2 separate regions of the Homo sapiens genome follow, and region 2 is linked to region 1. The links come from fine-mapping of genetic effects on gene expression. A gene starts in region 1. The other region holds a variant in brackets. All regions are shown on one strand. Distances are between the middles of the regions. Region 1 holds the start of SLC49A3 (solute carrier family 49 member 3). Region 2 overlaps ZNF732 (zinc finger protein 732).

Evidence for each region. PIP is the estimated chance that this variant, and not a neighbour inherited with it, causes the effect.
Region 2: its variant is fine-mapped to the expression of SLC49A3 in cerebellum (GTEx, PIP above 0.99).

The regions. Positions count from the first base shown.
Region 1 is chr4:686,935-692,311 of GRCh38, reverse strand. SLC49A3 (solute carrier family 49 member 3) reads left to right here and starts at 3,161. Exons shown (of 10, transcript NM_032219.4): 1 at 3,161-3,319. The coding sequence starts at 3,185. It overlaps LOC124900643 (a long non-coding RNA gene), which reads right to left. Exons shown (of 2, transcript XR_007057985.1): 1 at 5,074-5,377; 2 at 4,293-4,840. RefSeq lists enhancers at 2,125-2,174, 1,950-2,897, 2,898-3,846, 4,795-5,377 and silencers at 3,115-3,174, 3,205-3,374.
Region 2 is chr4:278,494-283,870 of GRCh38, reverse strand. All of the region lies in intron 3 of ZNF732 (zinc finger protein 732), which reads left to right. Among named protein-coding and RNA genes, the nearest start is that of ZNF732, 24 kb to the left of the region's middle. The variant C/T (reference allele first, on the strand shown) is at 2,242.

The DNA.
Region 1 (5,377 bases):
GACAGGCGTGAGCTACCAAACCTGACCAGAGATCCTTTTGGAAAGCAAGACGCTGGGTGCCTTTGTCTGGAGGTCACCATGTAAACGTACACAGGCAATTCTGGGCTTGGGGTGAGGATCCCAGGATGGTGCTGTACCCGGATCCAAAACTCGGGCAGCTTAGGTGAGTGTGCCGAAGGTGCTTGTGGAGAAATGTAAACAAAACTGTTTCATTAGATGCAAGAGTGGAAAAAGTCATTGTTTCCAAATAAGTGGACTTATACTATGCGATTTTTTAAAAAATTAAATTTTTTTTTTTTTTGAGACGGAGTCTCGCTCTGTTGCCCAGGCTGGAGTGCAGTGACGCAATCTCGGCTCACTGCAAGCTCTGCCTCCTGGGTTCACACCATTCTCCTGCCTCAGCCTCCCGAGTAGCTGGGACTACAGGTGCCCGCCGCCACGCCCGGCTAATTTTTGTATTTTTAGTAGAGACAGGGTTTCATCATTTTGGCCAGGCTGGTCTCAAACTCCTGACCTCAAGTGATCTGCCTGCCTTGGCCTCCCAAAGTGCTGGGATTACAGGCGTGAGCCACCGTGCCCAGCCCATTTAGAAAGTTTATTTTGCCAAGGTTAAGGACACACCTGTGACATAGCCTCAGGCAGTCCTGATGGCACGTGCTCAAGGTGGTTGGGGCACAGCTTGTTTTTTTTTCCTTGTTTTATTTTTGTTTTTTTTTTGTGACAGAGTCTCCCTCTGTTGCCCAGGTTGGAGTGCAGTGGCACGATCTTAGCTCACTGCAACCTCTGCCTCCCGGGTTTAATCAATTCCCACCTTATATAGCCTCCTGAGTAGCTGGGATTACAGGCATGCACCACCATGCCCAGCTAATCTGTTGCATTTTTAGTGAAGACGGTTTCACCATATTGGCCAGGCTGGTCTTGAACTCCCGACCTCAGGTAATCCACCCACCTCGGCCTCCCAAAGTGCTGGGATTATAGATGTGAGCTACCTCGCCCAGCCATGGTTTGTAATTTTTTTTTTTTTTTTTTGAGACAGAGTCTCACTCTGTTGCCCAGGCTGGAGTGCAGTGGCATGATCTCAGCTCACTGCAACCTCTGCTTCCCGGGTTCGAGATTCTCTTACCTCAGCCTCCCAAATAGCTGGGACTACAGGTGCATGTCACCACACCTGGCTAATTTTTGTATTTTTACTAGAGACTGGGTTTCACCATGTTGGCCAGGCTGGTCTTGAACTCCTGACCTTGTGATCCACCTGCCTTGGCCTCCCAAAGTGCTGGGATTACAGGCGTGAGCCACCGCACCCGGCCCATGGTTTGTAATTTTTAGCATGCAAGTTCTGTAGATGGTTTGCTAAGTTTATACCAAAGTATTTAATTTTCCTTGGAGTAATTATGAATGTCTTTAACTTTGGTTTTCATGTTTCTTGTTGGTATACATCAATGCAAGCGATTGTTGTGTGCTGATCTTGCATTCTGCAATGTTGCTGAGCTCACCTGCTCAACCCAAGAGTTCCGACATGTAGGGAGGAGGAGCCCCTCAACAATGCACGCTCAACAGAGACTGAACAATGGAGGTAGCTACAGTGGCTGCCCCGTTTCATGGTGACACCCCTCGACAATGCACGCTCAACAGAGACTGAACGATGGAGGTAGCTACTGTGGCTGCCCCATTTCATGGTGACAGGCTCAGACACCACCTGTCAGAGGCAGTGCTCCACAATAGTGAGGTCCCTCAACAGGGAAGCCTGCACTGCAACTCCCCCTCTGCCAGGTGGGGTTAGGGGATGTTGAAGGCCCTAGGCCAACATTGGCACTGGACTATGGAGGAAGGTTGTGAGGGGGCTGGGTCCTCAGGGCAGGGCGAGCAAGAGGTGAGGAGAAGGAGAACAGAAGGAACTGGTGGGGGAATGGGGAACAAAGATGAGGGGGGAGGCTAGACGGTGGGGAAGGCAGAGGAGATAAAGAGAGTGAGGACCACAGGGCTCCATCACACGTCTCAGAGAATGGAACCCCCTTGGGGCCCACCCATCTCAGGACACCCCGGGTGAGCTCCATTTTCTCTTTGTTACTGGATGAGACTCTACAAAAAAAAAAAAATCCCAAAGTGGAGAGCTCTATCTGAGACACACACACAATCCCTGCAGAAGACTGCACAGTGAAAGCTGGGGCCTCATCATTAGCCTGTTCAGACTCAGGTGTGGAAAATGGACAGGCCCTGGCAAAGGAGATGAATGTTTAAGACAAAAACCACGAATAATACTGTTCAGGAAACGGGGATGGTTTCAAGGGTCAAGAGAGCCTCCCTGTTTGGGGGAAATCCTGTTTGCACGTCTGACCAGGCCAGCCTCCACCCCACCCCTATACTGGCCTCAGCAACAGGGCCTGGAGCCTCTTGGGTTCCCCCAGGGTGGGCCAGGCACAGTTGTGGGATCAGCAGGTTCTTGCAGAAAAGACTAAGCCGAAACTCCCTCCTCTGCCTTCCAACACACAGGCCTCTCCATCCTAAACAAACAGAAACCTGTGCCTACTCCTCTGAGAGCCGTGTCCTCCATTGTAAAATGCAGGTAACAATCCGGTGCGTGTGTGGCGGACTGCCTACCCCAGGGTGGGGCCCACAGGCCTTTCTGGCCTTCCCTCCAGCCTTGGCCTGCAGCCCCTCGCCCTCCTACCCCATGCCTGCTTCCCGCAGGGGCTGTAGAGGGACTGGTCTGATTTGAGGCTCTGCGCAAAGCCAGCCCAGCCTCTTCTTCCAGGCTGGCCTCTGGCCCCTCCCTGTGGCTGGCTTGAACCTCAGGAACTTGGGGTCCACAGCCCCCTTCAGGAAGTGCAGAGCTTCTGCTGGGCAGAGTGACTTCCAGGCCGCCTTTCCTGCTGAGAAGCACACAGGCTGTGACCGGGGCCCTTCCCGGAAGGGACATTCGGTTTTTGTGGCAGGGACTTCCAGCCTGAGGCCGAAGGAGGAGGGTCCAACTTCACCTTTGCCCGCCCTTCCCCCGCTTTTTTGGGTCTCCTTTAACTGGGACGGGGCGGGACCCTCCTCCGTAGTCCTTGGGGCGGAACTGGCCCCCCGTGGCCCGGCCCGGCCCGGCCCCACCTCCGCCCGCAGGCGGTCCCGGCCCACGCGGGAAGGTCCTTAAGCCCGGGCGGCCGGCGGGACCGGCGGAGACCCGTGGAGGCCGCCGACGATGGCGGGGCCGACGGAGGCCGAGACGGGGTTGGCCGAGCCCCGGGCCCTGTGCGCGCAGCGGGGCCACCGCACCTACGCGCGCCGCTGGGTGTTCCTGCTCGCGATCAGCCTGCTCAACTGCTCCAACGCCACGGTAGGGGCAGGGGCGGGGACAGGTGGCTCCGGGACCCTCAGTCCCTCGGACCAGCCGGGTTTTGTTTTCCTGTGGCCACAGCCCGAGGTGCCAGGTGCTGGCTGGGGGCGGGGGGTGCCTTCTGGAGGTGGCTAGGGATTGCGGGCACTGGGGGCACTGTCTGTCCTGGAGGTGGCTGGGCCCAGGGCACAGAGCAGGGCTGGGTGCCCCGGGGGATCTGCCAGTCACGGAGTCCCAGCCCTTCCCAGCCTTCAGTGGCTCCAGCCTGGGTCCCTCTTCCCCAGCCAGTCACATACAGGTGGCCCTGCGTTGGCCCTCTCTCCTTCCACGCCTCCCAGCCCCAGGACAGCAGGCACACAGCAGAGGCGCGCTTGGAGCCGCCCTCCCCTCCACCTGACTCTGAGTGAGGGGCGGCTCCTGGGCTGGGCTGGGTTCCGTCCTGCCCCCACCCCCTTCAGGTGTTGCACGCTGCAGCCTTTCCCGCCCTGTGTGCCCTCATCAGCCATCCCCCGGAGCCTCAGGAACTGGTCAGGCAGTATCTGGCCAACGTGCAATGAACAGCTAGAGTTGGCAGCAGGACCCACAGCTCAGGGAGGCGCCAGGTCACGGGGATGGTCAGGAAGCTCGGGGGCAGGGGCAGGAGTCACTCTCAGGCCTGGGTCAGGGCTCTTCCAGGTGGACCCCGGGGCCTCTCCCCTCCTCCTTTGCTGGCTGGGTATGGAGGGCCAGCCTCTGGCCGAGACAGGCCCGGGATCTGCTGGATGGGCCCAGGGGCTGCCTGCTGCCCACAATGCTGGCACGAGCCGTAACTCACTGCTGTGGCTTGGCGTCCTGGCCCACCATGTCCAGGCACTGGGGAAGCCATAACTGGCTTTGGGTGGAGTGTCTGAGGGTGCAGGGCTGGTTTCATGGTCCAAGAGTCAGTGGGTGTCGTAGGTGTGGGGCGTTCCTTGGACAGTCAAGGGCCTCCTGCTGCAGTTCTTCACTGTTTTATTAATATCCACGAGTCATCATGGAGCACACAGAAATCTCACCCTGACACCAAGAGTCGTCATGGTCTCTGCCTGGGTCACCACAGTGAGCCGTAAGCACCATGTTCACTCCAGCCAAGTGCCCTTGAGGCTGGAGGTTACTCATCTGCAGCCAGTGACCAGGGATCCCGGGTTCCAACCAGCAGCATGAGGGCCAGGCGGAGCAGAGCTTGGGTCAACACCCACCCCGGAAGGCAGCCCAGTGCTCTGGATGAGACTCAAAGGACCCAAGGGGGCGAGCGCAGGCAGGGTCGAGGCTGGGAGATGAGGAAGGGAGTCAGACAGATCGTCCTCCCACGTTGCCCCGCACGCTTCAGACGCATCTCTTCTCAGTGAGTCAGCTGTGGGCCCCACTCAGGCCCCCGAGGAACCAGGACAGGGCTGAGGCTGGAGCGGCGGGCTCGGCTCCGCAGGGTGGGCTTTCTCTCCCGGGCTCGGCCAGGCAGGCACCAGCTGGGCCTGGGGAGCTCGTTCTGTGCCTGGCCCCGTCCTGCAGAAAAAGGAAGACAGGGCGGCTGTTGCCCAAGCTCCCTGTCCTGTCCCGTGGGCTGAGTCAGACCTTGTCCGGGCGGAGCCTGGGTCTGGCTGCTGTGTCCGAGGGTGTGGCCTGGAGCTCAGTCGACTCATGGAAGTTGACCTTGAGTGACACGGCCTCCTGCCTCCCGGAGTGAGCCCCGGTGACCCGCTCCACTTTGGCCTCCCTCAGGGATGAGCCAGTCTCACCTCTCCTAGGAGGCCTTCCCCTCGGCCGCAGCGTGCACTTGTGCTGTGTGCTGGACGTCCGTGGGGTGAAGAGCTCTAGTACTTGATAATGCCTGTGGCTGGGGAATGGTGCCCGCTCTGGCAACATTCTGCCCAAACACCTGGGCCCTGCAGGAGGGAAGGTCAGGCTGGCCTTGGGTGGGGCTGGCCTGCAGTCCCAGAGGTTCTAGCTGAGACCCCGTCACGCCCACCTTTCCCTGCCTTGGAGCGCCAGGTCTGGTCTGGGCAGGGCTCGTGGTCCTGTGGGCTCTGGCCAGGTCCTTGG
Region 2 (5,377 bases), 410 kb after region 1:
AAGACTTGTTTGTCTTTGTTGTGGGCCAGATTTATGATGTATGCTAGAGAATATTCCATGTGTGTTTGAGAAGAATATAAATTATTCTTTTGGATGAAATGTTCTATATATATGTCTTTTGGTGCAGTTGTTTTATAGTGCTATGCAAGCAATTGTTTTCTTACTAACTTTCAGTCTGAATGATGTATTAAGTAGGGCAATATAGTCCCCCAGTATTATGTTTTTCTGTTTCTCCATTTCTTTTAATATATGTTTATATATTTATGTGCTCCAATATTGGGTATATATATATTTTTAATTGTTATATTCTTTTGACAGATTAGCCTCTTATCACTATATCATGAAGTTTTTTTTTTTGTGGCAGATTTTTTTTAGAAGTCTATTTTGTCTGATGTAAATATAGCCACTTCTATACTCTTTTAGTTATTACTGGCATGGAATTTTTTTTTCATCCTTGAACCACTAACCTATGTATTTCCTTAAATCTAAAGTAAGTCGCTTGTGTGCAGCATGTTGTTGATTTTTTAAATCTATTCAGACATTTCGCGAGTGTTTTAGTTTATTTTTTGCATCAATAACAATATCCTACAGTTGGTAATTTATAAAGAATAGAAGTTTCCTTAGCTCACAATCTGGGATGCCAAGAAGTCCAAGAGCATGTCATTCCCATCTGATGACAATCATATTTCCACATCACAACACGAGCTCACTTTTATGATAGACCCACTCATGATGACTAACCCACTCGTGGAATAATGATACTGATCCTCTCATGACCTTATAACTTCTTAAAGGCCTCACTTATTAATTTTCTCACAATGGCAGTTACATTTTAACATGAATTTTGGAGGGGGCACTCAAACCATAGCAATGTGATTTTATTGGCTAACTAAATTTTTTTTATATTTAAAGGAATTACTGATTGATAAGAACTTATTACTATCATTTTGTTCATTGTTTTCTAACCATTTAGTAATTTCTGTTTTTTCTTTCATGCTGCCTTCCCTTGTATGGTGTTGAGTTTGTTTCATTTTTCTTGTTATATGCTTTAATTTCTTTTGTGTGTATGTATCTTCAACATTTTTTTTTTTGTAATTTCCAAGGGACCATAAAATATCTCATAGTTTAAAAAGTCTAGCTTAAGGTAACAATCTAACTTCTTTTTTACCCACATAGGATCTTACTTTGTTTCCCAGGATGTAGTGCAGTGGTGGGTTCACAGCTCAGTGCAGCCTTGAACTCTCCAATATCAAACACTTTTCCCATATCAGCCTCCCAAGTAGCTGGGATTACAAGCACATGCCACCATGTCCAGCTAATTTTTTTGGTATTTTTTGTAGAGACAGGGTTTTGCCATGTTGCTCAGGCTGGTCATGAACTTCTGGGCTCAAGAAATCTACCTGCCTTGGCCTCCCAGAGTGCTAGGTTTATAGGCATGCATTATCAGGCCCAACTGCTTCTTTTTAAAAAAAGAATAAATAGCTTTCTGAAATCTTTATTTTATTTTATTTATGTATTTATTTTAGAGACAGGGTCCTGCTATATTGACCAGGCTGGTTTTGAACTCCTGGCCTCAAGCAAAAGTGAACTTCTATGTATAAAAATATTAAACAGTTTTACTCCTTTCAACACACTATTTATGTCACACTTTACATCTTTTTATATTATATACCATTAACAAATTATTGAAGCTATATGCTTTATTCACTTTTTTAAAAAAAGTCTATTTACGAACTTTCAAATGACTTTTAAGTTTGTTGATTTTTCCCCTTCTGTATAACTGAGTCTCCTGTTAAAGCTTTCTGTTAAATATTTTAGTTCTACTATTGTGTACTTCAGCTCCAGCATATCGCCTTGGTTCTTTGTTAATGGCTTATCTTTCTTTATTATCATTGGTTTTCTTCATGCATTGTTGCAAAAAATTTAGTAATATGTGTACTTTTGCATCTTATCGAGATTTTTAAAGATAATTATTTTAAATTCTCTGTTAGCCATTTTTTAGATCTGTGTTTTATTGTTAGTGCTTCCTGGAGCATTTTTAGTTTCCTTTCATGCTGTTATGTTTGCCTGATCCTTCATAATTCATGAGGCTTTGTTTTGATGTCCTTGCATCTGAAGGAGTAAATACCTCTTTCAGTCATTATAGACTAGTTTGAGGAGGTAAATATCTTCTCCCATTGGATTTCTGGGCTGATGAGATTTCCACTGAGGTTGCAATAAAGTGCTTTGGAATCCGGGTCA[C/T]GTAGCTACTACTGGGTTTGCAGTGAAATTCCTGCTTGGCAGACCTGTCATCAGGGCATCAGACAGTTGTGGATTCTATTTTCTGAGAAGACTGAACTTTCTTCAAGATGTTGATCAATATGACTGGCACTGAGGAAAAAAGCCTCCAGTTATATATGCAGATTAAGGTGCTGATACAATCAATGTGAGCAGGTGTGGCTCCTGCTGTGTCGCTCTTGCGAGGTGTTTGGAAATGCTCTAACCTAGTCATTGGACAGGTTCCTAGATGAGCAGTAATGACCCTTGATCACAGCTGAGAGGGTATGAAACTGATTCATGCGGCTGCTTCAGGATACACAGCTGAGACCAAAGTGTTCAGGTCTTTTTCTGGGTTAACGGTATTTCTCCCTGTGGATTTCTAGGTGGGTAGGACTTCTTCCAGACTCTAGATGACAGAGACCAGAGCTTGGTTATAGGACTGCTTTACAATTCACAGTGGGAATAAAGTCAGCCAGCATGCCTACAGGGGCACATACAGGTGTGCTTTTTGGCAGGTCCCAGGTTAGGAAAAACTTCTTCTGGACTTGGTTGCATGGACTTGGAGCCAGCTTATAGTGCCACGTCAAGATCCACTGTCAAATAATTATTGGCAAGCCTACATTCGGGCACAGATGGATGTTTCTCTCTGTGGGTGTCTGGGCAGGATTCCTTCCACACCATGACTGACATGTGTAAAGAGTGGATTTGGGGCTAATTCAGAGATCACAGATAGAACCAACTTCTAAAGGCCTTTCACCTGAGGCATAGAACATTAGAAATTCTCCTAGGTGTCTTTGCAGATGGTGCTAGTAGCAGGAACAAAACCAAATGGTCTGCAGCTAAGTCTACAATGAAAATTGGACACATTTTATTCTGTAGCTGGGACTGTGATGGGCAAGCATGCCACTCAAGCAAGGGCATGCCTTTTCAATACAGCCCTCCTCAGTCTTGGGTTCACAACCCTTGACATGGATTCCAAAGCTCCCATAAATTTCCTTTTTCAGGACATAACTGCTGCTTTTTTTTGGCAGAATTTTTTGCTCTTGTTGCCCAGGCTGGAGTGCAATGGTACCATCTCAGCTCACTGCAACCTCTGCCTCTCGGATTCAAGCAATTCTCCTGCCTCAGCCTCCCGAGTAGGTGGGATTACAGGCATGCGCCAGCCACCACACCCGGCTAATTTTTTTGTTTTGTATTTTTAGTAGAGATGGTCAGGCTGGTCTCGAACTCCTGACCTTGAGATCCACCTGCCTCAGCCTTCCAAAGTGCTGGGATTACAGGTGTGAGCCACTGCAGCTGGCCGTTTTTTTTTTTTTTCTTACTGCTGTACATTGCATGTCAAAGATTCAAAATGCTGGATCTTCATAAGTACATAGTCACAGTTGAAAACTGTAGTTGTTTGAAGGATTGTTTTTATGATACATCTACATCTATATTCTATATTTTATAGGTCAGAATTTTTTATTGTTTTCAAACTCTATTTTACTGGGGAGTCTTTTTTCATGTAGGTTCTCCTCAATTATTTTTTGTTTTTAATCTTCATATTTGTATGGTAATTTTCAACTCTGTACCTTTTATGACCATGTGGTGTTTAATTCAAATAAAAATCATTGGGTTTCACTTGGAGCAATTTAAAATATATGTGTAATTCAGACATTTCTATAGCCTATAAAAGTTATCTATGTGGTGTTTGCCTGTGTAAATAATGCCCCTACCTGGTTTATAAATTTTTCTTTCTGGTGGTCATCACTGTTTTCTTTTATAGGTGAGTAGTCAAAGAAACAGTAAAAAATTACCACCTATTTATTGTTTGAGTATATGTTATTCTGTGAGAGAAACACTTTTTATTTGAAGGTGATTTTTGAAAAATGTAACCTTTTTAGGTAGATGTAAATATTTAGTTGTGATGAAAAACCTAACATTGCTTAAAGGTTTTCAAGTGTACAGCCTAGTGGAGTTAAGTACATTTACATTATTTTGAAATGGATCTCTAGATTAATTTTATCAAAGTAAAGTTCATACCTCATAAACAATAAACTGCCATTTTTTTCTCTTCAGGTCCTGAAGAACACCATTTTACTTACTATTTCTATAATTTTGACTGATTTTTATATTCTTATTGGTGTAATTATATAATATAATGTCTGGTTGTTGTTTTTTTTTTTTGAGACGGAGTCTCGCTCTGTCACCCACGCTGGAGTGCAGTGGCGTGATATTGGCTCACTGCAAGCTCTGCCTCCCGGGTTCACGCCATTCTCCTGCCTCAGCCTCCAGAGTAGCTGGGACTACAAGCGCCCACCACCACGCCCAGCTAATTTTTTTTGTTTTTGTATTTTTAGTAGAGACAAGGTTTCACCGTGTTAGCCAGGATGGTCTTGATCTTCTGACCTCGTGATCTGCCCGCCTCGGCCTCCCAAAGTGCTGGAATTATAGGCATGAGCCACTGCACCCGGCCCCCATGTCTGTTTTTTTTTTCACTATCTCAGTTTACTTAACATAATGTTCTCAGGCTTTGTTTTTGTAAGATTGTCCTGTGCGGGAAACGCGTGAGGGGAGAAGAAAAGACACACACACAATATCTTTAAGGGTAAACAACCTTTATCCCATGTAAATGGCAATGCAGATATATAAGCAAATGATACAATAAGCAAATTGCAATGGGAAGGGGAGAAGGAAAAGGAGATATATATATTTACATTTACCAGACTATGGAGGATTCACCACCAGACTAGGAAGCAATAGCCTGGGCTCCAGAGTCAGACACTACACTCACCAGCCTGTGGAGGATTCACCACTAGACTGGGAAGCAACAGCCTGGGCTCCAGAGTCCGCCACCCTTCCGTGCACAGACGAAGAGAGGTCTCATGTAGCTTCGGCATGGTCTGGGACCCTAGCTCTTTTTGTAATGAGTTGTTTGGCATGAGGCCCAGTCACAAGGGCCCTTTGTGACTGGACTCAAGGAACACAAAAAGGTCAAATTGTGTTTGCGATTGTCTATTGTTTTTCAATAACTAACATATAGGAATAGATTGAAATAGAAATTTCTTTGAAACAGTGCTGGGGGCTCACACAACCCATTCTGGGATTTGGTGACCATTGTTTGTCATGTTCAGTTGAG